Linked DNA regions of Homo sapiens: regions 1 and 3 are each linked to region 2. The links come from fine-mapping of genetic effects on gene expression. A gene starts in region 2. Each other region holds a variant in brackets. All regions are shown on one strand. Distances are from middle to middle. Region 1 overlaps PTDSS1 (phosphatidylserine synthase 1). Region 2 holds the start of PTDSS1 (phosphatidylserine synthase 1). Region 3 holds the start of UQCRB (ubiquinol-cytochrome c reductase binding protein).

What was found.
Region 1: its variant is fine-mapped to the expression of PTDSS1 in whole blood (TOPMed, PIP 0.98).
Region 3: its variant is fine-mapped to the expression of PTDSS1 in whole blood (TOPMed, PIP above 0.99).

Annotation. Positions count from the first base shown.
Region 1 is chr8:96,327,922-96,338,543 of GRCh38, reverse strand. PTDSS1 (phosphatidylserine synthase 1) reads right to left here. Exons shown (of 13, transcript NM_014754.3): 11 at 8,263-8,331; 12 at 7,449-7,518; 13 at 1,549-5,087. The coding sequence ends at 4,978. Among named protein-coding and RNA genes, the nearest start is that of PTDSS1, 71 kb to the right of the region's middle. RefSeq lists an enhancer at 10,192-10,622. The variant G/C (reference allele first, on the strand shown) is at 4,044.
Region 2 is chr8:96,257,071-96,267,692 of GRCh38, reverse strand. PTDSS1 (phosphatidylserine synthase 1) reads right to left here and starts at 5,791. Exons shown (of 13, transcript NM_014754.3): 1 at 5,474-5,791. The coding sequence starts at 5,652. It overlaps MTERF3 (mitochondrial transcription termination factor 3), which reads left to right and starts at 6,083. Exons shown (of 8, transcript NM_015942.5): 1 at 6,083-6,192; 2 at 8,993-9,336; 3 at 10,579-10,622. The coding sequence starts at 9,003. LOC105375652 (a long non-coding RNA gene) reads left to right here. Exons shown (of 3, transcript XR_928431.3): 2 at 1,356-1,437; 3 at 2,801-2,887. RefSeq lists enhancers at 4,866-5,105, 5,251-5,943, 6,426-6,485, 6,637-7,330 and silencers at 5,256-5,435, 5,486-5,855, 6,036-6,185, 5,938-6,262.
Region 3 is chr8:96,225,719-96,236,340 of GRCh38, reverse strand. UQCRB (ubiquinol-cytochrome c reductase binding protein) reads left to right here and starts at 796. Exons shown (of 4, transcript NM_006294.5): 1 at 796-829; 2 at 3,114-3,185; 3 at 4,401-4,567; 4 at 5,209-10,622. The coding sequence starts at 811. The coding sequence ends at 5,286. It overlaps UQCRB-AS1 (UQCRB antisense RNA 1), which reads right to left and starts at 1,048. Exons shown (of 2, transcript NR_183275.1): 1 at 780-1,048. RefSeq lists an enhancer at 790-1,069. The variant C/G (reference allele first, on the strand shown) is at 4,780.

The sequences.
Region 1 (10,622 bases), 71 kb before region 2:
CCCTAACATTTTGAAAGCTGAAGATCTTTCTTAAGCCTTTCCCACGCTGCACTCATAAAATACCTAATCAGTCCATGACGTATGCAGTTGGAGAGATGAGATTGAGCCCAAACAGCCCTTTGTCGGGCGGGTGGGAACAGTCAGGCTTACAGCCCGGATTTCCAGTATGGATTGTTACATAAACCTTGCCTGCAATTTGACTCTGTAATGAAAGCTATTGTGTGTATACTTCAGACACGATAATGAAATATTTTGGTTTTTTTAGTCTCAAATGTTAGAAAACCAATTTTCTTTTAAAGGCAGACAAACTTCATTTCCTGTGGTTTGTAAAACCACAAGAGTCTCCTTTACTCAGCATCCAGAAAGGGGCCACACCCTACAATGGAACACCAGGCTCTGACGCCCTGGGATGACTGCTCCGAGGGGCAGGAGGTCACAGCTCTGAGCAAATCTTCCTGCCACCGCAGGGCACTGTCGGTGCCCACAGTTTGCAGACCCTGGCCAGGGTGATGTCTTGAGCATTCCAGTAACAAAGAAAAACCAGCAATTAACTCCCAGGCACAAGTACGAGCGTGAGCCCAGATCACTTAAAGAGGCTGGGTGGTTGGTTGCATCAGCTGTGAAAGCAAAACCCTTGGGTAAATTCTATGTTCTGAATGATGTTACTGTCCTCACTGGGGTTACGAGAGGGGAAGGGATCTGCCAACACCCTTCTCTCTGCTCCAAGAGGACAACAATGCTGGGGCTTAGGAGTCCCTTTTGCTAGAAATGCAGGCAGGAAGCTTGCTGTCACCCGCCTCCCCAGCTGGGTGTACTGAATATGGAGGTAGAGACCAGGCTTCAACCAGAGTATTATGAGTATCAGAGTATCATGAGGGATAAATTCAGCTTAGCCCTGTGAGGCCTTGGAGGTACTTGGACATGTTGCAAACCCTTGAACACTGTTAGACTGTGACAACAAATATCTCTTTGCAGGACAAGCAACTTCAAAATTCCACCTAACAAGCTGCAAGAAAGGGAATATCAGAGTAGACCAAGTCACAGATGAACTTTCTGAAATGGACTAAAGGCATTTTTTAGTGAACATGGAAGAAAAGGAAGATTTTTACAACGTAGCATTCCCACAACCTAAAAAAATTTCACATCCAACTGTTTTTTTATCTTCTTTGGTAGACATCAATGAAATAATTCCTTTAAATTCACAGAAGATAGCAAAATTAAAAAGCCATATTTATTTAATGCATCAAATACCAAAGTTCAATTAAGGAAACTATTGCAATCTTCACCTGAGATAGGCCCATCATCAGGTTAGAATAAAGTGTGATAAGGGGAAATGTTGTAAAAACCTCTTACGGCATAGCAACATGACTGCAGCCCACCAGTCTCAGCCATTACTGATACTGACCCTTGCAAAGAATCAAATCTCTAATATAATCCTGAGAATGTGCACACACATGTGAAGGAAAGAGGTGTATTATGTAATGGAACACTGATAGACAGACGTCTTAGCTCGCCTTACAGTTTTTTTTTTTTTTTTTTTTTTTTTTTGAGATAGTCTCGCTCTGTCGCCCAGGTTAGAGAGTGCGGTGGCGTGATCTCGGCTCACTGGAACCTCCACCTCCTGGGTTCAAGCATTTCTTCTGTCTCTGTCTCCCGAGTAGCTGGGACTACAGGTGCCTGCCACCATGCCCGGCTAATTTAAGTATTTTCAGCAGAGACAGGGTTTCACCATATTGGTCAGGCTGGTCTCAAACTCCTGACCTCAGGCGATCCACCCACCTCAGCCTCCCAAAGTGCTGGGATTACAGGCGTGAGCCCTGCGCCCGGCCAGCTCTCCTTACATCTTGATTTCAATCCTATAAATGGGAAATGGTAGGGAGCACTGTCTAGTCTACTGTGGGATTTCTAGTTGTCATAACAATAAGAACCATATAAACAACGCCCACCTGGTAAACATTAGGGTGGCCCAGGAACTCTGCAGCAGTCACTGAGCACATTCCAAAGAGCGGATGTTAACCCCCCAACCCCGTATTTTAAAGGGCTAGCTTCAGTCTGGCTGCCAATGGTTACATTTTTTCTTCCCCACCTTGTGTTTAGCCTCCCCTTCTGTGTCCAACCTCCTCCACTTCTCAATGACCCCAAGGGCCTCTGTAAGTGCAGGATTCTACCCAAAACCCTCCCAATTCCAAAGGGTGGGCCTTGGCATAAAGAGGCATCATTCCAGGGTGCTACACGGTGGCTTCTGAGGGAAGACCAAGAAGGCTGAACCTGTTGTATTTGGTAATGAATTTTGTTTTCTCCTGGGTTGGGTGAGCACCTTAGGAGCTTACTGTGGAAGCAGAGTCCTAGCGAAAATAAGACTGGCATTGATAGGATGTCTTGTATCATCAAAATGCTTAACAGGTCCATGAAACATCCTAGCATTGCTGTGAGAGTGGTTCCAAGGTTTCTATGAATGGTGGAAACAGACACAAACGAAATGTGGGAAGAAGCTTTGGGAAGACCAAGAATGAAAAAAAGGGAAAAGAACCTAACACTCAATGCAATGCTACTTAAGGAGAAAAATACATAAACCGTTCTTCAAGCTTTAGGTCCAAAACAATGTTCTCTCTTAAGAGGGTGGTTTGCAAACAGGGACCATGAGATAATTTACAATCAAATCATTTCAGATATTGAATGATGATTCTGAAACACGCATTCTATTTCCATCAATGTGAGGTTTATTTCCATAGAAACGGTGAAAAAAGTAGGCCAAACCCAGCAGTATGGCTTCTAAAAGGAATAGCAGCTGTGGTTCTGGCCAGCCATGGAAAGCACTGGTTTTGTAACTACTATAGTAAAGAGCTCTGACTGAAGGGAAATAGAAAGTTTCAACTCAAAGAAAGGGCATGGAAAGTATCTGAGAACTTTCCTGGCTGTTTCTTACAAAGCCATGGAGAAAAAATCATCTCCTGTGCACCCTGCTCTTCACAATGCCACAGTAAAGTCGAATTCACCACCTGCGAAACAGCTGCCTCCTGTAGGCTGGCCTCAGAGGAAGCACACATGCTCCATCAGTTGCAACAAGGCGAAAGTCAGAAGAGTGTGAAAGTGTCAGGCCCAGTGCTCCCGGAAAATGAACCCGGAAACACTCAGTGAGGCACCACCGGTGTGAGAAAGAAGAGACAGGTGTCTTCTCCAATGGGCACAAGTATGTCATGCTTAGAAAAGCAGAACACAGGATGAAACAAAACATATTTATTTGCAAAGAAAGATCATGTTTAAATTGTACCTGTGTTTAAAAATGGCCTCTTTGATGGGTTATAAAAGTGCAGGCAGGTTTTATGAAACACGCACTTTGCCTCTCTTCTATCCTTTTGTGGGAAGCAGGCAGATGCTGGCTGGAGGACATTTGAGAGCTCGGAGCTGAGGCTCATCACAGCCAAATCCCTCACTCACCAAGTGAGCGGAGCTGCCACTGACGCTTCTCCACTCCCGCAGAATCTACTATTGAGCACTGGGCCCCCTGAGGACAGGATGTGACCCTGGCTGGCATGATTCATTCAACCCGTTCATCTTGGAATTCTTTTGCAGAAAAAAAAAAAGTGACACTTCTATGGCTAAAGATTTCCTTAAAGAAGAAGAAACATCAGAACGAACCTTTGTGCTGTGTGAAATGAGGGAACAAAAGATTACTTTCAGTGAGTTGATATCTGTAAGCTAATCAACTGGGTACTGGCCTCTTGTTAGAGGAAAAAAAAGTCCAACTTGGAAACCATTACCACAGGAAAAAACAATGACTATGTTGTTCATTCCTGTTGGTCACTTGGGTAGTCTAAGAAGTAGGACATATATGTCTGTAAGCCCTTTAAAATACACATCTTTTCTTTTTTCTTCTCACTATGTAAAACACATATATATTATCCTAAAGTCACTTGAAAAACACAGACTGCTTACAATCAATAGAAGATACCAGTAAGATGCAAGAAAATGAGCATTTTACAGACAGACCTTTGATAGGCTTTAAAGTGAATCGTTTTTATTTAAAACAGGGATCCATCAGA[G/C]GTGGTGAACTATCAAGGTCAAGGTTCTAGAGCATGGCACAGATGAAAGGTAATACTCACCAGCACCTCACATGGGACTCAGTGACAATGTCAGCAACACACCATGGAAGGAGAACAAACCCGATGTAAAAGGCACCTAGCTGGGGAGAAGCTGTGGTGTTCACTGCCTCTCTAGCAGGTTTGCTTTTGTGCACTGTGGCTAAGTCTGGATGAATAATATTGGGAAGGGAATAATCGGAAGCGAGGCTCCTATGCAGGCAGCTACCCTCTCCTGATTGGTGTATACTCGCCATGTGGTAGGAGGTCTTACAGGAGACTGAGGTTACCAAACAGGAATACAACACCTCTCTCCCTTTTCTGCTCTAGAAGGAAGGGGAACCCTTCCCCCAGTATCAATTTCAGCAGCGGCTTCTAAAGGCTGTTAAAAAGCATCCTAACTTAAAAACAAATAACAACAGTAACCAAATAAAAGACAGAAAAGTGGCCTGAACTTAAATCAATCAATGGAAAGGTAGATTCATAAAAATAAAATAAAAACTGGTGACCAGTCCATTAACCATGGGGTTAATGCCTCGTCTGAAGGAAGATGTTTACGCTGCATCCACGATCCAGCAGGCGCGGAGCTGCTCTTGGCAACTGTGAATGAATAGCTACCGTTTCCCTTCAACACACCGCGCTGCCACCGGTGACCGCATGTCAAGTGCTGAAGTTAGAAGAGACCCCACGTTGGCAAAGGCCCCCCAGGCGATGATCTGCCTGACGCGGCCAGGTCTGTGGGAAACAAGACTTACGATCTCAAATAATGACCCCCAAGTGCCCTCGCCTCTTCCTGCTTGCCCTGTGCGCCTCGACCTCCTCACGGGGAGTTCCAAATGAGTTCCATTTCCCTCTCAGTTCTAGGCACTCTGGAACATCTTTGATTAACCAGGGTTTTTCATTTCTTTCCAACGCCATTGGTGACTTTTGACTTGGAATGCCGATTCCTTCTCCTGGAAGAATGGCTTTCGTTGTTGCCTGCATGCTTGGGTGGGCTGTCTTCAGAACCTGGCCAAAGGAATCAGAGCACACCGTCACCCTGGGCTCTGGAGATTGGTGACTGTCCCTTTCCAGACCGCCCTAGGCTTGCCGGGGAACAGGTTCTTCCCTGATACGTGCACTCCCCCTAGTGGCCTCATTCATAAATGAAGGCGAGGCTCTCAAACACAGAACTAGTACTGAAGGAGCACACGCGGTGGCGCGGGGTTCAACGCAATAGCGCCCCAAAGTCTGGGTGGTTCCTGAAGCGTGTGTACATCTGTCCTGTGTATGATGGACATGGTCATGATGGTGAGGACCAGAAGTGAGAGCACAAGTGAAACGGAAGCCCAAACGAGGGGCAATTAAAACACACACCACGCGGTGCCCATCCTGCCCTGCAACCAAGGGTTTCCATCCCTTCACCTGCTCCACACCACCTTCTAAACCCGACATCAGGAAAGACTCTTGACACTATAAAATCAGAGCTATTTCACACCCTCTACATTTGATCTGGAGAACATCTTTACAATTCAGGCCCCTGCTGCCCACGATGGAGGGCACTGGGCAGCCTCTGCCCTCCAGCTGAGCCTTTGTTCAGCCCCTGCCTGGCCTAGCGGCCAAGCCAAAGGGTTCTCTGCCCCAGGGCTCTGATCCAGCCCCATAGGAAATCTCCACCTGAGGCTGCCAACAAAAAAAAAGTTACCAGAGTTACAGTCTCCACTGTAAGGAGCATTTGACTTAGACTAAGAGATTCTTTCCCCACTCAGAAGACTTCTGTTTTTGTTATTTTTCTTTTTTTATTATTCCATCAAGTAAATACATCTCTACTACTGCTTAATTCTCTTCAGTGGAGAACCTGTAAGTGCCAAGGTTGTTTGTAAGGGCATGGTTCTAAATAAGATAGCTGGGGAGCCCCTCTGTCCATCTCTATCAGATTTCACAACGGGCCGCTCACTGATCAATTCCGTGGTTCAGGAGAAACTTTCCCCAAAAGGGCGGCCAGCAGCTCAGCAGAGTGTATGTTAGTGTCTCCCCTGGGAGATCTTTAATGAGCCTGATGCCAAAAGAACTTAGGAGAATGACTGCAACAGGGCGCTTTCTTCTCCATTGGCCCACCGTTTCTCTGAGCAATTTTGTGAGCTAAAATTCAGTCTTTAGTATTTCTAATTTTCTTTCTTCAGCCAAGCTTCCCAAGTAGCTTATAAGGATTGACGAGGAATTACTGTCCAATGAAATCACCTCAATGTCATTATTCTACAAGTCTAATTCTTTGAAATAACCAGGTGGCCCCAAATATTCCCAAAGTGATCCTTAGAGGCCAGTGGAGGTTCCCTAACTACACGACCAAAATCTCTTACACTGCCCTGCCTCTTGAATAAATGCCATTAAAATGATCCCCCTCTTTTGAAAGGCTTTTCCTCCTGATACACAGTACCTTTTTTTTTTTTTTTTTTTTTTTTTTTTTTAAGAGGCAGGGACTTGTTCTGTCTTCCACATGGGAGTGATCCTGGGCTCAAGTGACCCTCCTATCTCTGACTCCTGACTAGCTGTAACTACAGGCATGTGCCACCACATCTGGCTAATTTTTTAAGATTTTTGTAGAGACAGGGTCTTGCTCTGTTGCCCATGCTGGTCTCAAATACCTGGCCTCAAATGATCCTGCCATGGCATCCCAAAGCGCTGGGGTTACAGGCGTGAGCCACTGTGCCTGGCCGGATATACAGTTCTTCCTGTTCACTCATGATGGAAGCCAAGAGGAAGAACGTTCCCATCAGGGTGCTTGAAATGGTGTGGGGCCCTCACGAAGGGCAGAGCTACATGGAGCCTCTTCTTACAAACCAAGTCTTTCACTCAGATCCTGTGAGCATTTTGCATGTTTCTTTTTCTTTTCTTTTCTTTTTTTTTTTTTGAGACAGAGTCTTACTCTGCTGCCGAGACTGGAGTGCCGTGGTTTTGAGACAGAGTCTTACTCTGCTGCCCAGGCTGGAGTGCAGTGGTACGATCTTGGCTCATGGCAACCTCCGCCTTCCAGGTTCATGCGATTCTCCTGGCTCAGCGTCCTGAGTAGCTGGGACTACAGGCGCCCGCCACCACACCTGGCTAATTTCTGTATTTTTTGTAGAGACGGGGGTGTCACCATGTTGGCCAGGCTGGTCTCGAACTCCTGATCTCAAGTGATCTGCCCACCTCAGCCTCCCAAAGTGTTAGGATTACAGGCGTGAGCCACCGTGCCCAGCCATTGCATGTTTCTTAATAAGTGACAGGAGACATTCAATGGGTAGGCCTGAGACCCTTCAAGGCTTATATCATCTCCACTCAAAGAATAGGTAATAATTCCACATCTCAAGGACCCAGTAAAATTTTAAACAACGAACAAGAACAAGATACCTTTTGTCCCTTTCCTGTGATGCCAGGAGATCTCTGGACTGTAGGTGCCATCTTCACACTCCGAGTAGGTCTAGGGAGAGAGACAGGCTTAGTGCAGGAATTTTAGGAACTCCCTGGGAGAAGTGGCAGGGCAAAAAGGCGAGCATGCTGCATCCCTGCCTCTCCCAGGCTGGGATCATCACTGGCAAGTGACAGAACCTCCCTGTGCTTATATTTCTCTGCTATAAAAACAAGGTTCTTTCCTCTCACAGGTGATGCAGAATCAATCTTCCACAACATGCCTTAAGTTCTTTAGACTGAAGGTGTAAATAAAGGATGAAAGTGTTATTTTTACCGAAAAAAATATTACCGTCTACCAGACGGCCATCGTGTCTTAAAGCCATTCATGTCTATTTTCTATGGTATCCTCATATCTACTAAATGAAGGTCAGGGCAAGCGTTTGCCCAGAAGAGCCACAGGCCGGAACACAGGAAGAGGCCTCCACACAGTTCAAGAGCTGGGGAGAAAACCCAGCTTCCAAAAGCCAGTCCACAGCTTTCCCATCACTTTTCTTTTTTTCTCCAAACAAACATAACTTTTTTTATCTAACAAAAGTTAGACAAAAATATTGGTCTACTGAACAGAGCCGTCACAAGCAGGGCCAGCAATGGCTAGGGAATGAGTTGTGACATGCGGTTTCTGCAGTGGCAGGACTGGAGGCCCCAACCTCAGTGTTTACCTCGCCATATCCTTACAGGCACGTGCTCTGAGCGAATTTGCCGAGCCCGGGGTGATTATTTTAAACAATGGCCATGCCTGCCTCTCCTTCCATACCTTTTCTCGGTGACCATAGTGTTCTGCATACCAAATCATGCCGTACAGACAGAGGAAAGTGGTGAAAGCCTGGAAGAGAAAAACAAATGATGCTGCACAAAAAAGTTCAATTTCCCAGAACTTCAGGGTTTCAGTGGGAATCAATGCAGGACCGTTCAATGCATTTCTGCCGTCTGGACGCCGGTTACAAAACGGCTGGACGTGGCAGAGATCAGACCTCAAGGGGAGGGTGCACACCCAAAGCTTCTGACAACAAAGGTTATGATGAGACCACAGTTACTACCTGTGACTCTACTATCAGAAAGCAAGAAAGACAATTTTCAGATGTGCAATATGGTGGGATGCATTTTCTTGATAGCTTTGCGGGTTCTGTTGAAGAAGATAGAGAGGATTCTATGTTCTAGTTCTGATTTTCAGGGTCCATTCTCTCCCGGCTTCCCCATCACAGGAGAGCGCTAAGAGGACTCAGTGTGTCAGCTTCTAGGGGGAAGAGGTCACAGCGGCACCTGAGGGCCCACGGACAAACACTCCCAGGGTAGAGGGTGGGGAGCTTAGCTGGACAGGGCTGCCCTTGCTTTTCCAGGCTTTTGAGTGGACCCCAGTTTTTATTGCTTTGTTTTTCTTGGTTATATGGATAGGAAAACAAAGAGAAAATAAAGATGCTCTTAAGGCCCTGAGTGGAATGAGGAGGGTGTGGCCTGTGGGTGCCCAGAGGCAGGGACAACCTCTACTCCACACTTGCCCCACTCACTGGGCCTGCCCCCACACCCTAAATTATACCCTAATTTAAGGAAAGAAAAGCACAGACAAGAATCCAAAGTTTCAAAACATGTCAAAAAATCAAAGCTTAGGAAAAGTCTCCAGCTGCCTGGACTGCATACCAAAGGCAGGAGGGAGGGAGGGTGAGCGGTAGAGCAGGGCCATGAATCTCCCCGGCCACACCTTCCCCACTGCAAGCAAAGCAACCAGAACAAAACAAGGCAACTGCCAGCTCCTTCCAAATTCCTCACTCTAGAAACCCATTCACATCAAGCCATCCTGGCTGTTGAGCCTCCATCTCTCCCCCTGCATTTCCTGTGGACACCTGGGCACCTGTCATTTTCCTGGACCCCTCTCATCTTGCACCAACTGTGGGGACAGCTGTGAGAGCATGGAGGGACCTTCTCAAGGAAATAATTTTAGTTCTAAGAATCATAACTTTAGATCCAAAAGGTCACCTCAGAGACCATTAATTTCATTGCCCCTCATTTTCCAGAAGAAGAATGAAAGCTCAGAGAGGTGAACATTGGAGCCGGAACTCAGATCTCTTGAAACCCCCGGATCTGGGTTTAAGGGATGGCTACTGATACAAATATTGGCTTTATGTCTATATAGCTTTATTTCTCCATCCATGTATCCATCCCTGAGAACGAAAAGCATCATGGGAACAGTGAACAGCAGCAGCTTCTCCTCTGCACAGCCACAGTCTGGTGGTAGGGCGGGAAGGCAGGGGCTGTGAATTCTCATCATGGCAGCTTGCAGTCGAGCTTTGGCCCAGTTCCTTTATCAGCGACATTTCCTGGCAGCTGCTGGATACACAGTGCCTTCTTAGTTCCAAAAAAGAAAGGAGAGCAACACTCTGGCTAGCTGTCCTCTTCCGTGCCAGTTACGTGGAAGCAGGAACAGTGGCAGCGTGGAGAGAGAGTGAGAAGCACAAGCAGCGCCACTGGTTCATTTCCTACTAAACCCACGTGCAAACTGGCATATACCTACAGGTTAGGGATTTATTAAAAAGCTCATATCCATCAAAAAATTAGGCCACGAATGAATACATTAAAACTACAAAGTGAAAATGACTTCCAACCTTTAACATACTCTAATGCTTGCCCAGATTTCTTAGATATACCAACGTTAAGTGTGCCATTTTCATGGCATGGAAAGAGTGGGAAGGACTAGAAATGATTTGCAGAGTGTAAGCCTGTGTATGCGTTAGGCCCCTTACAAAGAGCAAAACAGAACATTCTGGGTTTCACACAGCGGACTGGGGGGGTTAGGTTCCACCTCCCCAAACGAGAGGGCTGTGGGGAGGCGGGTCCCTCAACTAGACTGTCATTGCAAACTCTGACCACCAGAGGGCAGGCACGCGGGGCTCTTCCCTTCCCCAGCCCCAGGCCCAATATGACAGGCAGTGGCAGCTGCCGCTCCCTCCAGCGGCAAACAGCAGGCAAGTGGAGAACGACAGGTGCTTATCATCACAATCGTCACACAAAGGGTCTGTTGTGATTGCCAAATCTACTTCACCTGCGTACAAAGAGGCCCATTTTACACTTGTCCCAGCAAACGGAAGCCGGTAATTTACAGGTTTGCAATCACACCTGTGG
Region 2 (10,622 bases):
ATCTACTGAAATACCGATGTCAACCAGCTTTGGTGTTATCTTTCATACCATACTAATTTCGTTTTATGGAAAGTCACAATCCTTGTGAAGAATTACAGCTAAGTTATCAAGTAAAGCAGGAGAAAGGTGATATGTTTTAAAGTATTTATTAGATAAACGAGAATTTTAAACAGGGAAAGATGGGACCATGATTTTGTCTAAAAAGATCACAGGGGCAGCACTGGAGGGAGGGGAAGCCAGGGCCTGAGAGTCAGCTATCCCAAAGGGTTGGGAGTTTGCTGAGCAAAGGCTTGGGAACGGAAAGAGAACAGTCCCGAAAGCTATAAAGGCCCAATCAGACCTGCTGAAGATAAATGAGATGGTGAACTCCAGGTTGGGAGAAACCTGGGCTAGAGGCAATGAGGACTATGAACTGTTGAATTGAATTAATTGAATTAAATGGGATGCCAGGGCTGAGGAAGCAGTGCAGGCTGACCGGACTAGTCCTCGTTCTGGGATTAGTTAAGACTGAAAAACTGTAACTTCTCTACAGAAATCTGGGGCAATAGGAATTATGTCACAAGATAAATTGTGTTACATCTGGTAATAGAACTACATCTAAAATGCTAAACACAGTTTATTCAGAACAGATGAACTTGAATTAAGGTTGCTTACTAAAGAGGAGTCTGAAAGGCAGCAGTTCCTAGGTATATAATCTCTGTGGGCTGAGGCATCATCTAAGCCAAATAAATATTTAAGTCACCCAAGTGCCCATTCACTGCAGTAGACCCCAGAGAAATATATGGCACATTTCCCCCTTTAACAAATTAGAAATCGTATTATGGACATAAAACTCTGGAAATCAGTATAAGAAAAAATGTAAAACATTAAGTTCAATAAAAAATTTGATTCAAATGGTAACCAGGGAAAAGAAATGTTAACAATCATTGATAACTGGACCTCAGGTGCAACCTAACACAATGTTCACCTCCAGGGCTGGTTTAATCCTAGCCCATAATCACTATAGATGAGCATTTAACATTGCTAGTGTCAGCCAACAAGGGCATGCAGGGCTTTTGTTGCTGGGAGAGAAGGAACATGATGTATATAAAGGAAACAGGATAAAGACAACTGAATCAGCAGTATCAGGGGACATTTTCTAATGGGAATTTATGTGGTCAAGAGGGAAAGAACAGGGAATGCTAGCAAGTATCCATAAGCAATATAATACAGGTGGCCACAAGTATGCCCCAATGATATGACGGTGAACTGGAGTTCCAAAGCCAATAAGGGAAATTAAGTAAAAACCATTATTAACAAATCAATCAGTCAATCAATCAGTCTGTCCATTTCCCTGTCCTTGCCTGTCTCCTTAGTTCTAAATCGAGGAGAAATGAAGCATAGACAAATTGATGATCACTTAAGTACACAAATCCGCAGAAAGGCAACGTCTTCTAGGTAAGTAACAATTTTTGTTGGACAAGTGCTAACAAAGGCTGATTCTACTGTTTAATGGCAGGTGCCTCTTAAGGAGAGGTGGGCTTCTTTGAATGTGAATTAATAGATTCTGGTGTTTTCTAAATCTAAAGCTTGAGTTTTTTAAACTAAAGGCATTCAATATTTCCAAGTTTACCAACCCCTGAATGCAGAGTAAATATGAGGGTATCTTATAGGTAATTATTATACTCTGAGCTTGAGACAAAAGTTTTCCTTGCCCTACTTTGCTAACAAACTTCTAAGACATATGCGTAAGCATTTATTTATAAAAATACTATTTATTTTTTAATAGAGATGGGGTCTTGCTATGTTAGCCAGGTTGGTCTTGGACTCTTGGCCTCAAGCAATCCTCCCACCTTGGCTTCCCAAAGTGCTAGGATTACCGGCGTAAGCCATTGCACCCAGCCTACTTATTCTAAAATGTGGGAAAATAAGTTTTTGGTTTTCTTTTGAGACAGGGTCTCATTCTGTCGAGTGAGTAGGGTGGAGGCTGGAGTATGGTGGCGTGATTCAGCTCACTGCAACCTCTGCCTCCTAGGCTCAGGTGATCGTCTTACTTCAGCCTCCAGGTGCATGCCACCACGCCCAGCTAATTTTTGTTTTGTTTTGTTTTGTTTTGTTTTGTTTTGTTTGTTTGTAGAGATAGGGTTACACCATGTTGTCCAGGCTGGAAATGAGCTTTTTCAAATAGGAAAATGATTAGGTAGTATCTAACTTTATTTTTAATGATGGTGATAAAGACAGGAGATATTTAAATACTATGGTTTAACAGGGAATTGACCTAAGGGCCATCTAACAAAAGAACTACTTGACAAATCCAAACTTGTCTCAGACTTCAGTGCAAGGTATCTAATCCTCTGTAATTTTAAATTCTTGCTGGATCTCTGAAGCATGTGACAGTACCCAAGTACTGTTTCTCACATACTGGTTATATGACATCCCAAAAGAATCCTATCTCCTCGTTCTCTTAGACAACTAGTCTTTGCAAAACAAACTTTAAGACATATCTTTTAAGTTTTACTGAAAGAATTGCACTGAACAATTGTCCAACTAAAATCTTATAAAATAAATAATAAGGCACTGGAGTTAATCATTACAAAAGAACATAGGATACATTTTCATTTAAGAAGTCGTTACTTTCCGTCTTTATGGAGGAATATAGAGCTATCATTGTAATGCCCCACTTAAGTCACAAATCATTACAAAAAATGAGTAAGATTTAGTAAGTACGAATTCTATTAATGGTGCTTATGATTTTATATAAAGTGAAACTTGTTATTAATTAGTTCTTCATTATGTGATTTCTGTCTCTTTATGAAATTAGTGGAAGAAATAAAATTGTTAACATTTTTGGATGAGACTACAGTCTGAAGTTCAGATTATGGTTCTTCTATTATTTTGGACAAGCTGTTAAAATTCGTATTCATTTCTTATACTTTCACTGCTGCAATTTATTGACTGCCTTGACAGAATATGATGTAAAAGGAAATTTCAGAAGATTGTGACTTTTTATATCAGAAAAGAGGAAGAGAAACCTATTTTGAAAGGACCTAGAATAATATTAAAAATGAAAGGCTGAAACAAATGGCTCATTCTTGCTTCTCATTATTTAAAACAAAATACCATAATTATTTTTCTAATTTCCAGAGAAACTCCCTCACTAATTTCATTATTTCAAGCCCACACCTAAGATGAAGTTAAACTGAAGTTAACATCAAACAGGTATGTATGTTATCTAATGTCCATTTTTCCAGTGCTTTTATCCTTCTCAATTACAGAGCATACTACATCCTCGTTCAATAATAAATATAAATTAGAAGACAGTAGCATTCAATGAAATCACATCGTAATAACCACTAATGTTTATTAAGCACTTAATACTTGCCATGCACTGAGCTAAACAGATTATCTAAAAAGATGAATTTAATCCTCATGACAAATAATCCCGACAGATTAATGTATTGATATTTTCATTTTACATACAGATAAGGAAACTGAGGCCTAGCAAAATTATGTGGCCACACAGCTATTAAGTGATAAAATCAGGCAACATAATGAAGTATTTGAAAGTAACCATAGTTAGGGACATGATTCATTTCTCTCCAAAGCTAGAAATATGTCTGGTCAGGTACTGTGGAAAGGTCTGGTCTTCACCTGCTGCACAGCTTTAGCAGATTTTATAGTAATAGTGGCAAGATCCCTCAATCATTAAAGAGTAAGCAATTGTTACTTAAGCTTTATACCTTTAGGTAGATTCTTTCAAATGGATAAACACTTACATAACAAGAACCAAGAGTCAAATGAATCCCAGAGGTAAGGAACAAGTGTGATGTGGGAGGATATTAGTTTTATGAGGATTTGAAAAACTGCAGTTATTCCTAAGGGAGGCACCACCGGCACTTGTGTGTGTGTATGCAAACGACTGTGTAGAAGACAATTCCCTTTATGTTGTACAGCGCTGTCACATATGTCACAATACATTTAGTATCCGTTAACTGCTCCCCCTCCCAAATACTAGAAGTTCTCTCAATCCTTGTGACTACCCAATATATATATCCCTACACATGTTCTGCTGACCCTGACAGAGAACCTTGATTGTTGGATAAAAATACTGGGAGAGAAGTAACTGACATGAATTGTACATTGTGCTCCAGGGACTCTGCTAAATGCATTCACACACATTCATTTAATTTTCATAACCCTATATAAGTAGATATTTCATCCCCATTTTACGAGTGTGGCCCCTGAGGCTCAGAGCAAGGTTATGCAACTTAATTAAGGACACACAGCCAGTTTTGAAACCAAAAGTGTGGCTCAAAAACTACTCTACTCTAAGTTGGCCTTTTAAGCCATAATGGTGAGAGAGGTGTGACTTCCCTTTCTTTAAAGAGGTTCATTCAGAAAGTATAAATCATTCTAAGTAGGAACCACGGTGTGTACCTCCTTATGAACCAAGGATGAATTAGTTCTCTAGGTTAGGAATGAGGAGCCACAGGCGCAGTGCCAGAGTTAACATGAGGTGTGTTCAAGATTTGGGCTGGGCAGCTCCTATGAACCGGTATATATTAGAATGTGTGTGTATGTTTTCCAGGGAATAAGAGAGTTGTGTTATGCTGTGTGAGGTTTATGTGTTTCATTTAACACACAGCAGTTACTATACCCCAGGCACCATTAAAATTGCTGGACAAGATCACATTTCAGCACGTATGTTAGGTAATGAGTGAGCAGGGTATGCACCGCGTGATGTGTGGCGGGCTGGTGTCTGTGCAGCCATGTACACAGATGATGGGTATTGGGCTGTGCTGGAAAGGAAAGGTCCGCTGTGAGGTGTGTGTTTAGAGTGGCAGTTTGTGCCGTGGTACAGATGGTAGTGTTTGAGGCTGGGGGAAGTGTTATGCTGGATGACTTGTGTGCAATGCATACGGGAAGTGCTGCACAGGAAAGACCGTGTATGCAGCACACATGTGCATTTTTTGTGCGTTACGGATAGTGCCGAATACCGGAGTTCCACAGGAAGGGATCTAGGTTGTGTCCTGGGCCTGTGTATGGTGCCTGCAGGCGCTGTGGATTGGGGTGCTTTGTATGTGTAGCGGTGTGTGCTGAAAGTGGTGCATACGACATGATTCATGCGGTGTGCTGGGTAGGGACGAAGGCTGGAGCAGTGCAGAGGAGGGGCCCGCGTCGTGATGTTGTGTGGAGCGATGCTGAGTGCGGTGGGTGAGGGGGCGATCGTGCTAGGTGACTCGCGTGCGTTCCCCGTGTAACCGGAGGCGCTGTATGGAGAAGGGGCACTGAGGGGTAGGGGAGCAGGCTAGCGTACTGTGAGACACCGGGCGGGCGGAGGGGCCGCGTGGGCGGCGGGCTGCCAGTGCGTGTGCGTGGAGCAGCCAGCCCACTTCCTCACCCAGAGCCATGCCGGGCCCCCCTCCCCGCCACCCTCCCTCCCGCCTCTTCCCTAGCCCTTGGACGCGCCCCCCGCTCGGCTGGGCCGCCCCACCTGGTAAAGGCGAAGTACATGAGGCTGACGATGGTGAAGCTGAGCAGGGTGATGGTATGCGGCCGGTAGAAGAAGTCAATGGTGATGTCCTCCACTTGCTGCTCGTTGATCATCCGGAAATGCATTTTGTAGTTCACATCATCCTTGCTTAGGGTCCGGCTCCCCACGCAGGACGCCATGGCCCGCCTCCCCGTCCTGCCGCGGTGGCGGCGGCCCCAGCCCGAGAAGGCCGGGACCCCGGGGGTGACTAGCCACAGTAGGCTAATAGCCGGACGGCAAAGCCGGGTCTGGCGCCCAGCAAAGGCTGGGAGCAGAGGGAAGGACAGGCGCGAGAGGGCGGGGTCGCGGCGCCGCCACCGCGGCCTGGGGCAGGGGACGCCGCCGGCCGTCCCCACGCTGTCATCCTAGCTGAGGCATCTCTACCACTCGAGGAATTTTCAGACTCCAAGTCCACAGGACTTCAGAGGAATAGCGAGCCGGAGAAGGGTAGCCGGGGCCCCTGGCTGGCTCTTTTCAGAGCACGTAGCCCGCTGTCTCCCCGCGTAACCCGGCACATGGTCTCGCCCACTCCGGGCGCGGCCCACGTGGGCCCGGGAGCGCGGCTGCGCTGTGTAGGGCGGGCTGAGGAGCCGGCGTGCGGCGCGGCGGGACGGGACGTGCGGCCCAGCGAGTTGGTCGGTCCCGGGGTCACCCGCTACGGGAAGCAGGCCTCGCCACAGGTAAAGCAGGAGCTGCCCCAGCACGAGGATCGCGCTCCTGGCGAGGGTTCAGGTTCCGGCGCACCCGCGTCCAGACCGCGCCCCAGGGCCTCAAGGGCCTTTAGGTTTTCGCGGCCCAGTAGAGGGTGATTGGTTTTGTTTTGTGTTTTTCCCTGGCTGATGTAGTGAAAACTCAACCATGCTGGCTAATTAGCGCAGTGTGAGAAGCCTCAGGAGGGGGCTCTGCCTTCCTGCGCAAGTTTGGGGAACTGAAGTGGGCTAAAATGGCCTGGGAAGTATTGAGAGACCCTTTATTAGGAAGCTGCCCCCATAACCTCCCTTTCTCTCCTGATTTCATTTATAGCATTTCGTAGGTAGAAATCTTGAACTCTATTTCAGTGCCTTTTTCTAGCGAAGCACTAGGCACTCATTGAGAACAGTATATATGAATTGTTAAGAGACTTCAGTTTCTTTAAGGGTTTTCTGTAATTTTCCTGATGAAAGGACCTTGTTAGAAGACTTCAGGTTACCACCTTACAGGGCTTTTATACACATCTGCACATCCCCTACCCGCTTTTGCATACTGTGTAAGCAAGTGAGTTAACTGTACTTGCCATTGATTTATTTCCATTCCGCAAACATTAGAGCAGTACAAGGCTCTGGGAAAGTGGAGAATAGTCCCCGGAAGGATGGATCCAGGGATGAGACCCAGCTCTGCTCTCGTGCATGAACAGTTAATCAATTGTTAAGATGTGTAGGCAGCAATGAAAGGATGTGGAGAAGATAGTGCACTTGTAAATAAAAATGCAAGGATAAACATTAGTTGTATGCACAAAGATCTTTTAATGACGGGGTGAAATTTGAAAGTGAGTCTTCCTGATGTTTAAGTGGTATTGAGTGTGGAAAGGCTTCAGGATGAATTTGGGATTTCAGGAGTTTGAAGTAGGATGAAGTGCTTAGACGTCAAAAAATGTTAGAGCTGATAGGGGCCTTAAGAATCATCTTATTGTACCCCTAGCCTTTTAAAAAAGCATTATTTGAAGAATAGTTATTGACCCCACCCCCACCCCCCACATCATGGGCTAGACTGCTGCTTTTGTTAGACTGCTGCCAGAAACAGCCTTGTCAAGGTAGCACAACCGAGGTCTTCTGACTTTCAATTTAGTGCCCTTATGACTACCGTGCAGAGAATGAATGTTGTAGGTTTGAGGGAAAACTTGGCACATTTGGAGTCCCATTTCCCACCAAAATCTAACAGAAACCACCTATCCCAGCAGGGTATTGTGAATACTTACTTCTTTTCTAAAATCATCGCAGAATGGGCCGAGCGCAGTGGCTCACGCCTGTAATCCCAGCACTTTGGGAAGCTGGGTGGATCACCTGAGGTAAGGAGTTCGAGGCCAGCCTGGCCAAGATGGTGAAACCCCGTCTCTACTAAAAACACAAAAAATTAGCCGGGCATAGTAGCGGGCGTGGGTAATCCCAGCTACTCGGGAGGCTGAGGCAGGAGAATCACTTGAACCTGGGAGGCAGAGGTTGCAGTGAGCCAAGATGGTGCCGTTGTACTCCAGCCTGGGCAACAAGGGCGAAACTCCGTCTCAAAAAAAATAATAATAATAATAATAATAAATAATTGCAGAATGAAAGGAAACTTTCACTTTTGTAAAATCTCTTTCAGCAAACTTCCCAAAACTACAGATCTCCAAGAAAAGATTAGACCCTCAAGTATTTGGTCTAATTTAGAGCATAAAACAAGCTGAATTCCAGTATGCAGAAAAACAAAGTATAAAGTTGTAGGCAGCAATTAATTCAGCAGAATTTTTGTATTTGGTTGTGTAACCAATAATAATGGCTAACATTTATTGAGCATTTCTTATATCCTGACTCCATCCTGTGTTTTATATGGATAATGTTATTTAACGTAAGATTATATGCATCAAATTTACCTTTCTAATTAGCTGGCTAAATATAAAATCCCTTCATATTCCTGGAGTTTAACATAGCACTAGCCTTTCCTGATAAAAATATTTTTGAAAACTACTTTTTCAGTCAAAATATACAGGTATTAATTGCTGGTTGCTTATTTATTTCTGTCACTTGGTTTTGTTACTAGTTTTGACCTTTTCTTTTTGAAGGCTTTTTTCTCCTTTCCTACAGTGAAACAAAACTTGACAAAACTGGTTTTGTTCAATTCCCTTTGGAAGAACAGCTTTATCTGTGAAGTAATCAACAGTGTTCAGCCCTGAGAATGAAGCAAGAAACTGCTTTCACTGTTCTGTATATCAATGATAATATTTTGATGATTTGTTTAGGACACAGTAGATTTCTGTTTTTTCATTTTGGGACAAATTTATATACATAAAATGCATTTGAATAATTCAGTGTTACTTTGATCAGCAATGTGCTGCGGAAACACCCTTCACACCAAATTTCAAGAACACTTATTTGCATCAGCTTATTCTCTTTAAATGATTAAATTAACAGATTAGTGAGGTCTGCTGTCACTTGAACATTTGCAGATTTTTGTTTTAAGCATTTTTCTTACACCAGTGTCATTGCATTTTGTTTTTAAATTGTAAAGTATATCTTTATTTTTCCACTCAGAAGTTCCTGTCTGTTGGTTTGTAACTGAGATTGCCTTGTTGTTGGCTTTTCCTGTACATAAGAAACATCTCACTATTTTAGACTAAATATATATTTAAACACCTTTCAATTAGAAAAAAATAATTTCCAGTTTATCTTTTTGTTGTTTGAATACCGTTTTAAACATTTAAGTAAATTAAATTTCTCTTCTTTTGACGGTTATATCTTTCCTTTGTAGACTAAGAAAAATGGCTTTGTCAGCCCAACAGATACCCAGATGGTTTAACTCAGTTAAGTTGAGGAGCCTCATTAATGCTGCACAACTCACAAAACGTTTTACTAGACCAGCAAGAACACTGTTACATGGCTTTTCTGCTCAGCCTCAGATATCCTCTGACAATTGCTTTCTCCAGTGGGGATTTAAGACTTACAGGACTTCCTCCTTATGGAATAGTTCCCAGTCTACTAGCTCAAGTAGTCAGGAGAATAATTCTGCCCAAAGCAGTCTGCTTCCTTCCATGAATGAACAGTCACAGAAGACACAAAATATATCCAGCTTTGATTCTGAGCTGTTTCTAGAAGGTAATTCTGAACTTTCAGAAAAGTCTCCCTTTCCCTACTTTGGCCATTTGAACAAGCTACCTGTTTACCTTCTGCTAGCCCATTTCAGGTAATATTTTGTGCCAAGAAAGAAAAAGAATAATACCAGTTCTATTGATGAACTTCTATCATGCCTTTATTTTACTGGTAAGAAAAAAAGTTTGTGGGCTAACGTGTAAGATTATTTTATAGCTACACATATAAAACATTTGCTTTTTAAATATTTTATTGTTTAGATTCTTAAAACAAAATTCTTCTAGTGGTAATTAGTTTTATTAGGGTATAATTATATCAAGTAAAATTCATCTTGTGGGATATATAGTTCTATGAATTTTGACATATGCATTTAGTGTGTAAGAACTACTGCAATCAACAAATAAAACAATTATATTAACTCCACAGAGTTCCCTCATGGTCGCTTTTTAGTCAATCCTCTCCTTCCTATGGGTCCTATTCTAGGAATATTTCGCTGGTAATGAAATGATATAAGGTTAAGTAGAATATGAAGGAAAGAGAGCTGGGGAGAGGGCAGGGAGGAGATGCTGGCTATAAATGATGAGAAAGGATAGTTAATGATGAGAAGCACAAAACAGAACAAAAGATCACAGACCTGATTCCTTAGCTTAAGGTAATGTGTAGTTCTAAGTGTCTTCCATGCTGCGTTTGATTTTAAAAAAACAAAAACAACTTCAGAATCAGGGCTGTACTAGAGAGTCACATCTCCTGTAGAGAGGACTGCAGGTTGTAGAAACAATCATAGAAGCCCTTTTAAAGATGTATTTGAGGGTAACTTGGAAGGGAGGGCATTGGGTCAAAACAAAGACTTTCGGGATATGATTACTTTAATCCATGCAATTCAGACTGTTGGCATATGTGTACTTTTAGCCAAGTTAACAGGCTATGGTAAACTCAATCTCTGTTTCAAAATTCACTTGAAAGTTAGGTGATTTTTAGCATTCTCACCTACTGATTAAGTGAAGGAAAGGCATTGTGTGCTTTGAAATTTACCAACAAATTTCTAATCTCAGAGGAACAGTAGTTAGTCTGTCTAAATAGTTGTAACCTTACCTCTTAAAAGGTGAAAAATTAGGGACTTGGATGTTTAATTCTAAAATGATCCCAAGATTTAACCACTGAAAGAAGCAAACAAGGGAAGAGCTGGTCTTTGCAGAAATAGTTTTAAGTGTGCATATTAGAGCACTAATTTGTTTCTCTCTTTCAAAGAACTGGATGAATTGCCTCCATTGTCTCCAATGCAGCCAATTTCA
Region 3 (10,622 bases), 31 kb after region 2:
TACATGGGGATCCGCACAAAAGAGTGAAGTGGCCAATGTAAGATGCCTTTATACTTTTTACACGAACTACAAATCAGAAGAAAGGGGATCTGGCTAGGGGCAGTAAATTTCTCGCGGAGTCATTAGGAGAAAAGTGTGTGTGTTGGGGTGTAAACTTAGTGGAAGATAACGGTTACTTCGGAAAGTATATTCAGGTCCAAAGCAGCCCCCAGTTTCGTCTCTGGTGATAGGTGCTATTTTCTCCCTCTGGTAAGGGACGGGTACTCCAGAGGAATCCTGGAGGAAGCTTTATGGCTTGCTGCATGCAGGAAGAGATAGGTCATCAAACCTTTTCTGAAACTACAATTTCTCCAATATTTTCAACTCGAAATAATCAATGTACCAATTCCATATATTTTTGGGATGGCACATCCATCAGTCCTTCAATAGAAAGTAAGACGATGCCCTTAAAACATTTAGCTTCCTGCCTGGCACAAAGAGCTGAATTAATACTGTCCACGCTCCCATAGCTATTAACAGCAAATAACAGAACCCAGCTTTAAGCCTTGGTCTCCTAATTCCTGACCTGTGTTCTTCCCATCACATCACAACCAATACTTCTTAGAATGTAGCACGCAAAATGCCCCGCCTACTCCATTGGCCTCACCCTGGCCGAGAGGTGCTTACGCAGGTGCTGAACGGCAGTCGTCAGAACTGCGCCTGCGCAAGCGGCCTTTCTCTGTTCGCGATGTGACGTAACGCGCCTGCGGACTGGGCCCAGCTTGTCCTCTATGACTTACCCAGAAGGCAACGCTTCTCTTTCTGGTCAAAATGGCTGGTAAGCAGGCCGGTAAGTAACTGGGGGTCTTCTTGGCCGGCATCGTCGCGCTTCACCGTTTATTTTTGCTGCAGCTTGCTCCGTTTTCTCTCTTCTTTGTAAGTGGCCAAGTTTGTCGCGGAAGGGAAATTGGCTGCTTCAGTCCAGTGAAAAGGATGTGCTTCCCCACTCGTTTGCTGTCCCCAGGGCGGGCTTGCCTGTATAGGGTTGGGATGTTAACCCGCTGTTTGTGAAGGTGCCCGCGGTGGCTCTGACAGCCCTGGAGTTCCAGCTGCCCGTGCTTGGAAGTCCTTCCCCTTGGCCTTAGAAAAGTTAAAGGGCACAAGAGGATAACTAGTGGATGACTTTCAACCCGAATGAGCTCAGTGCTTTCTATGACCCAAGTGCTCTATCGTGTGCATTGGCCCTATAAATTTTCTTGCCATTGCGACGAGGGAGATATTAATTTCCCTTTTACGCTGATAAGATAACTGAGGCAAAGTGACCCAAGGAAGTAGAATTGGAAATATCATTGCACCCCTCGCGCTTCTCAAACTGCGAATCAGAGACAGTTGAGCAAGGGATACGAGCGACGCTTCAGGTTGACCTTGGATTATCTAGAGCGTCAGCTTGATCAGTAGGTTTGGAGAAATTTGAATTTATTGTAGGTTCTTTTTTTCTTTTTTCTTTCTTTTTTTTTTTTTTTGCTAATCTCTGCCCTCTGGCGGTACAAGTTGGAGTAGCCGTTTTGTTTGTTTGTTTGTTTTGTCTTTGAGACGGAGTCTTGCTTTGTCGCCCAGGCTGGAGTGCAATGGCACAATCTCGTCTCACTGCAATGCAACCAAGTTGGAGTAGCTTAAAAAATGTTGATCCTTTTCTCCCCGCCCCCAGCAATTGTGAAGCTGTTAGGAAACATCAGGTTGCCAGAAACATCCGTTAACCTAATTGACATTGAGCTTTTTGGGGGTGGGGGAGACTTTTTAAATAATTATTTTATTAATTTGGCAGATATTGAAGGAGTCTTACTAAATTCAAGACACTGCTTCTGTGCGTGTTTGGGAACTACATAGACCAGATCTCAACTCCCATTAGCTAACTCTGACCTTGGGTGGGATCACTTCTGTAAGCCAGCTTCCCCTTCTGTAGTAACAGACATGTAAATAAATCAGCTAATGTTGGTAAAGCAAATAGGAAAGTGTTTGGTGCACAATAAGTGCTTAGTGAATATTATTATAGTCACTGATAGGTGGTTGAATATAATCTGTCTTCCACAAGTATGTTTGTAGATTGTTGACTGATACTTGTTTTTCTAGCAGCAGTTTTATACATGACTCTTAATTTCCAAGGAGATTTGCTAAAGCCACGTAATCTGTAGTGCACTGAGTTTGCAAGCAAGGAGAGTTGAGTGAAAGGAGAGTTTGCTTTCCTTCCTTGGTAAGGGCTAACCCTAGACAAAATTTTAAAAGAGAATACAAACCTGTTCTACCTCTCCTTTTGTAAAATGTCTCTCCTAAAATGTCAGATACGGTCCTGCTGTACTTGGACCCTGCTGGGTTACTTCATCAGGCTCAGCCCTGTTCCCCAAACAGTTTTAAAATTACCTATTTCTCATCCTTTTTCAATATCCATTCCCTTGGGGGGAACTTAGTTGCTTAGGAGGAGGTAAATGGACTTCTTTTACGAATCCATATTAATGTTTAAATGACTAATGGTATCAAAATCCTCCCCAAAATACATACATTTTTAAAGAATGTGGCCAAATGAAATAACTGTAATATCGAGTAAAAATTTTAGAGGATGAGGGTCATTTAGACCTGCCAGTCTATGCTGAAATCTCACTGTCTTTTCCCTACAACTCCAGCTCTCTTGAAATGAAAAGTTTACAATTATTTCCTGTGATCTATTTATGAAACTACAAATGATGGAAATTTCCAAGTCCTTTTCCTATCTCCCACCCCTTCATTTCTGAAGGTAACAGGGCAGGCATAAGGGCACACGATGTACCTATGGATCTTTTGTACATTCAGTGTTTGAGTTTACCCTTTTCTTTCATGACTTGCCACCATTTTCCTGCAACCACTTTTGCTCATAAATAAAATAAGCACTTTTTATCAACATTTTATAGAGTATAAACTTTTTTCTTTTAAATCTAATTCTTTTGATTAAATTCTTGCTGTATATACTATATACTTTTAAAAGGAAATTTATTTCTATGTTTGCATTCATCAGCAAGATAACTGAGTACTGGTTGCTTGCCTATCAATGTGTTCATATAGTATAATTAAATTGTAGCAATTAACAGTGTGACAATTATCAGTTTCAGCATCAGGCAAGTGGCTGGATGGTATTCGAAAATGGTATTACAATGCTGCAGGATTCAATAAACTGGGTAAGCAGCTGTGCTGTTTAATGTTTTTTGTTGTTGTTGTTGTTTCTTTGTTTTTTTTTTTGTTTTTCTGAGAGTATTGCTTTTGCAAGTGTTACTGTGGTTCCAAAAACCATTTCAGTTCTTGTATACATCAGAAGATTTTAAAATTAAATCACATTATGTTAAATCCAGTTCCTTTTTAAAGTTTTTTTGAGAGAAGAGGGATGAAAGCCTCTAAAATGTTCGACTTGGTAATGATTTAAGTAGTAAGACATTTTCCTTCTACACCCCCTTTCCCAACTCTTCCACTTAAAATTTTATTTATTTATTTATTTATTTATTTGAGACAGAGTCTTGCTCTGTCACCAGGCTGGAGTGCAGTGGCGCAATCACGGTTCACTGCAACCTCCGCCTCCCGAGTTCAAGTGATTCTCCTGCCTCAGCCTCCTGAGTAGCTGGGATTACAGGCGTGTGCCACCACGCCTGGCTAATTTTTTTTGTATGTAGTAGAGACGGGGTTTCACCATATTAGGCTGGTCGCAAACTCCTGACCTCAGGTGATCCACCTGCCTCGGCCTCCCAAAGTGCTGGGATTATAGGTGTGCACTACTGCGCCCGGCCTTCCACTTAAAATTTTAATTTAAATTATATAAACATTGAAAGTAGAGAGTTTTTGAATATTAAAATTTTATCACGTCCATGCAATCATATGATTCCTAAGCTTTTTTAGAACTTTGTAATTTACCATGAACTTCATCTTTTACTATTGAAGCTTGAAGAAAGTGTAAGCAAAAGTCACTGTTCCTTAGTATACTATCATTTTAAGATTCTTTAATACCTTGATCTCAGATTTAAACTATGAGAAAAAAGAGATGTGGTTTATTAATGTGTGTTTAAAAACAAAGTAAACATTTAAAATATTTTGTAAATGGTTTAGATAAAATATGAATTTTGTGGCATTGGATTTTAAGAGGCTCATATATTGTTTCCATAGTCTAGTTCAAGAAGTAACCCATTATATCAAGTAATAACTCATTACTTTTAATGGCAAAACTGCAATTACTTTTGCACCAACCTATAATGTATGAAATGCATTGAATTTCCATTGAACCTAGTGATTTGAATTCGATAGTTCACCAAAAGTTGTAAGTTATAAGTCATAAAGGTATTTTACTAATTTAAAAAAACCGCGATTTTTGAGATGCATGTGCAATCTAACTTTGTCATCTATCATAGGGTTAATGCGAGATGATACAATATACGAGGATGAAGATGTAAAAGAAGCCATAAGAAGACTTCCTGAGAACCTTTATAATGACAGGATGTTTCGCATTAAGAGGGCACTGGACCTGAACTTGAAGCATCAGATCTTGCCTAAAGAGCAGTGGACCAAATATGAAGAGGTAGCACAGCTTTATCTACCTGACAGTGTTGCTCATTAAGGATGGAGTTTTAGAAACAAGAGAAACATGTTCATTTGCATAGTGTTAGAGTTCTCTGAGTCATGTCAAATAAATATGTGAGGTTAATAAAGCAAATGTTATTTCCGTTTTAGAAGAAAACCACATTGAGTCTTACGTGTGAAATGATTCTTCTGAAATTACTAAGCAAGTCT[C/G]TAATATAGAGAGCCAGGACTAAAATCCAGGTCTGTTGCCTCCCAGGTCTTTGCTGTTCCAGCTCTGCACTCTGCTTCCTACTTAGATGAAAAGATCAGCCCATTGAGTGTCCCTCCAGATCCCAAGAAGAGCTTCTGTGAAGCAAACTCTCACCCCTTGAACTGCATTGAAACTAGGCAAAGGCCTGTGGACATTCATTTCTTTTTCTTCCCGAAAAGACTTCCCCCTCATAACCTATCAAAGCAACTTATCACACCATCACCACAGATTTGACATTTTAAAAAGCAGATAGTTCTTAGGTTGAGAATATGTTTTCTAAAATTGGAAATTCAAAAGTAATTGCTTTTTTCTTGTTATTGAAGACCTGTTGAGTGTTTGGGATATATCAGTACGTGATGGTAACATATAATATTTCATTCATTCTTTAGGAAAATTTCTACCTTGAACCGTATCTGAAAGAGGTTATTCGGGAAAGAAAAGAAAGAGAAGAATGGGCAAAGAAGTAATCATGTAGTTGAAGTCTGTGGATGCAGCTGTTATGAAGATGGTTAAACTTGAAACAAACAATTTTAAGAATTATTTGGTCTGAAGATGTTTTACTTTAAATAAATGTCTATTGTAATGGCTGGAGTTTTTGAATTCCAAACCTTATACTGAATAACTACTGAATCCCTTTACTGTTAAATTTTTTTCCAAACTTTCAAGATATATTTAGTTGTGTTTAACTGCTACTTGGAGCTCAGAAGCCACTTTATCAGTTTTCCTCACTGGTTGGATAGCCTATCAGTTTATGGAAGGATATAACTTCCGTAAGTTACATCCTTATGGAAGCTACTGAATAAAAGAAGGGGGTATGCACCCCCTAGTTTGCCAAGATTGAGAAATAGCCTCTTCACTGGTATGCAAACAGATTTGATTTTGCATCCTATCATTTAAAAAGAAATTATGTCTGCACCCCAACATAGGCATACTTAAGTAATATACATACTCCTGTGCTAACATGTATACTAGAAAACAAAAAGATGTTAGAAAAATAAAAGTATAAAGACAAATCATACTGTCCCCATATCCCAGTGACTTTTCCACTTTGGAAATGATTGTTATGAAGTTTAAGGGTTGGATACTAGTCAGTTAAAAGTTTTAAGATTATAGGGTAATTTTTAAAAATATAAATTAGAATCATTGGCAAGGCATGGTGGCTCATGCCTGTAATCCCAGCACTTTGGGAGGCCGAGGCGGGCGGGTCACCTGAAGTCAGGAATTTGAGACCAGCCTGGCCAACATGGTGAAACCCTGTCTCTACTAAAAATACAAAAAATTAGCTAGGCGTGATGGTAGGCACCTGTAATCCCAGCTACTCGGGAGGCTGAGGGAGGAGAATTGCTTGACCCCAGGAGGTGGAGGTTGCAGTGAGCCTAGATCACACCACTGCACTTCAGCCTGAGCGACATTGACTGTCTCAAAAAAAAAATTAGGATTATTCAATGTTGTCATCATTTCCACTCCTAAATTCTGAAATGCTTTCTTTGGTAGAGGTGAGAGTGTGGAGCCACAGCTAGTAGAGAAGGAACAGTAGGACCTGCAGCCTCCCTGGTTTTCCAGGACAAGTCATTGCTGTGTGTGGCAGGAATGCCTTACCTCAAATAACAAAACAGTGTGAAAAACGAATTTGTGTTACATTTAAAGTTTGTAAAGCAATGAGAAATGTGTGTATCATAAAGAGCATCTTTAAATTTTTGCTAAAATATTAGCCTCTTAAATTCTCTAGGAACCCCCTCCCCCGCTTTTTTTTTTCCTTTCGCTGGTCGTTATTTTTCTAAACCTATCCTGAAATCATGTCAATTTTCTTTTGTATGGTTGAAGACAACTAGATCACTTGATAATGGTTTTGCTCAGGTCACATTGTGACAAGGTTTTAATGTAGTCCTACTTTGCAGAAGGAGGCCAAGAAGATGGGCTGTCTAGAACCCCCTTTAAAAGCATTTGTCTATTCAGAAAATTTTCCTGAGTAGATCTCTGCAAAGGCTCTTTTAATAGTGATTTCAAGATCACGTTTGCAGGACTCTGGTCTATTCGTTCAGACGTCTACTGTGCACAATTACAAGGAGACTACAACTGAGGCATCTCAAAGAGCACTGTCAAGGTGTGTAGGGAGCCGGGTGGGTGGAGGGAGGCTGGGCTCTGACCCTAGAAACCATGCTTATGAATGCTGTTAATGTTTAAAGCAAGCCTAAGGGCACTGCTGAAGGACAGGGGAACAAATAGAACTGACCAAGACTGAGGTATAACAGGAACCCCCAGGCTATCCACCTGCTCAAGGTAAAGTGTGGTATTACATAAGGCAACCTCTGATTTTGTAAGAGTTCTTCCTAAAGCCAAAGTGTATGCCTATTCTATGTTTCCAGATTACTTCATTCTTCTAAATGAGAACAAGTGTGCAAAAGTTCTTTGAACACTAGATCAATGTTTTGTGTTCATTATAAATTATGGTTATCGTCCTGCTTGTTATGAAGACTAAGAAAGTAGATCTAGTATTTGGCTCACACAGGTGAATGGGTGAGAATTTGTTAATCCATCAGTGAAGTCCTTTCATTTGAAAGAGAGGGCCTTTCTATTATCAAAAGCCGTCCTGTGTGGAAAATCACCATGAGAGTGCCTGAAACACAGGCACTCTGCATTGTCCTGTAGACCAAATCTACATTGTCCTGTAGTCTGGTCTACATTGTCCTGTAGACCGAATGGTAGAGTGATTCAGAGCTAATTCTGGGTTAGACTGCACAGGTCTGAATCTATTTGCTCACTGTGTAGTGCTTTAGGAATACAATTTAACCTCTCCGTGCTTCAGTTTGTTTGTCCCTAAGATAGAGCTAATGATAGAAACCTACTTCACCCAGTTGTGAAAATTAACTGACTGCATGTCAAGCACTAACAGTTTCTGGCATATAGTATGCATAATGTAAATTATGTGCTGAGAAGCGAGAAAGAATAACTTGGGAAAACGCTGAATATCATCAATGTCGAATAGCTAACCAGTAGCTAAGGTCCAAGGTCTCCTCTCTTCCTTCTATGTGGCACTCTTGTTTCTGGTTCATCTACTCCCCTTGGGTGTCACCTCCTTGAGTGAAGTACCTGCTGGAGATGAGAAGAGTGGAACTGGATCTGCATGACAGCTTTGATTAGGATGGAGCTAAGACTTGGCTATCTCCCTGTTTTGTGTTTTGGATGGGTGACATTTTAAAACTGCCAATATTCAAATCCTGCTAATTTGCTTTGTACAGTTTAAAATGTTTGATATCTTTTGTTGTTTAAAGTTTGAGATTGGTTTTGAATATACAGTTTTCCTACATCTTGAAGAAAGTTATGTTTGTTTACTCTGAAGTGGTCTATGTTCTGTTTGTTTGTTTTACTATACTTTGCAAAAAAACAGATGGCTGGCTTATGTTCACTGTTGTAGTGCACTACCTAGTATCACTTGGCCTTCCTGTTGTCAAGATGTAGGAAGCAGCGTAAGGGATGTCGGGCCTTCAGACCCCCAATTGCCAGCTGTGGTCCTAGTTCCAGATTGCATGGAAATATTTGATAACATTCCTGCACTGAGTTATCATGGTCTGAATATTTATGTGACGCTCTACGAGTGGTACCAAAATGTTAGTGATGGAGTTTTTACTAATGGCACCTTTTCCTGTTTTTAAATTCTAGAATCTTAATAAATCCAAAGTGTACATTTTGGTAGTGATTTCATTTAGTTATTTACTTTAAGGACTCCCTTTTCAAGCATTAACTCTGCACTAATTTTGACTTATGAAAAGATTCAGCAGTAAGAATAAAAACTGGGCCAAAGCCCAAAGTAATAATCCTTCACAAATAGGATGGAGTTTTAAAAATATGGGCATCCTGTGTGTAGCTTTGAAAATAACCAAACTACTTGGAATTAAAAAGTTAGGTGAACATGAAGATTGTCATAACCAAATCCTTGACAGCTTGATGGATGAAGAGCAGATGGGTTTATGGTGTATGGGAGGAAGCATGGATTTTAGGAGGGACAGTATCAGAGAGGGATGGTTAGAAAGTGAGTAAGACAGGTTGCTCTTTGGAAAACAAGGAAAATCCCTTTATTAGAACAAGGCATGAAATTCTGCCACTAGGTGGCGATGCCCTATAACTTTACAACTTAGTGTACATCACACGAGCACTATGGAAGATTTCTCCATTCTGCGCCCCACCAACTCCCTCCCCTCCTTCATTTTTCAGGATGACAACACCTTAGAGGTTTATGGCCATCAGGAGAATTTACTACTAAGCTATATACTGATGTAATGAAATCTAATATATGTTGTGCAATGAATTATGAGATGTTATTTAGTTTCAGGATTTTATTACTTCAATCAGTTATGACCATATTTCCTTTTATATGATTGCTCACTCTTTAAACATACCAGATGACTGTATAAGGAACACCTAATAAAGTCTATAGATGTTAAAATATTTTAAATGTTTTAATTTATATGCCATAATTTGTTTACATTCTGGTTATACTGGCGTTCATATTAAAAGCCATAACATGTTAGAATCTGAGATCTCAGGTCGGATAGTGCCTCTAAGTTATATTTTGCTAAGAAATTTTATTGTATTAGCAATTGAGCAAGAAAGAAGAACTGAATCATTATACGGTGGTTAATTTTTAGCATAGATGTCAGAAAGCCTGTTAATATTCCAGAGGCTTATGATAAACTATTTAAATTGTCATTCTGGATTCTGATTATATCTCCTACAAAGAAAGAGTGTATTATTTATTGAACTTTTTGTTTGAATACATGTGCCTATTTTTGCATAAATGTAAAAATGTAATTTTAAAATAAACCCCTGAAAACTTCTGGTAACATTATCCAGTTGAATAATTGTTCTGTTAGTATTCTAAATATTTTAAGAAAATTGTATACATATCTGTGACAATTGTATTCACAAGCCAAACCAAAAAAAGATAATTATTTGTTTTACAAAGGAGTCAGCTTACAATTTTTCTCTTATGCATGCATTTAAAATGTGGTTTGCCATTAAACTGGAAACACTGATCTGAGGCCAATGATTTAGGCAAGTCATTAGTCTAAAGATTGGCTTCCTCAGCTAGAAAATGAAGGGCTTTGACTAAAAAGTCTTTTTCATTTCAGTACCAAAACATTCTGGGTCTGTGATTTAACTTACGCTCTTTATTGTTGGGATGAACTAATACTGATGGAATACTAGCTTTGTACTAGGCACTGTTCGTATGTTGTCTCTTTTAATCCTCCCTGCAACCTTCTGGCATGGCTATTATAATGCCCATTGTATGGAAGAAGAAATTAGGCTTCGAAAGTCCATTTTATGCTTGTTCATTACATAATTTTCTGGATTTTTTAAATTGATGTATGTGTTTATGTTCCAGGCTAGGCAGAAGCTAGGAAGAATATAGCAGCCTCGTCACTGTTGAAATCTGGGGCTAGATAATTCTTTGTTGTGGGGGCCTCCTCTGTGTGTTACAGGATATTTAGCAGCATCCTGGCTTCTACACGATAGGTACCAGTAGCGCCTCCTGCCTCCAACTGTAACAACCAAAAATGTTTTGAGACATTGTCTGGAAATGTTCCCCTGGGGGAGCAGAATTGCTCCCAGCTAAAAACCACCAGTGTAGGGAATACAGAGAAAAACCAAGATGGTAGAGACAGGTATGTAATCAGATGCATGAATATGTAAACATAGATGTACATACTGTGTGAATTGTCCACAAAAAATATGTACTGGGTACTATGGAAACATGGAGAAGGTAAACTAACTAAACCTGGATGGGAATCAGGGCCTCTGATAA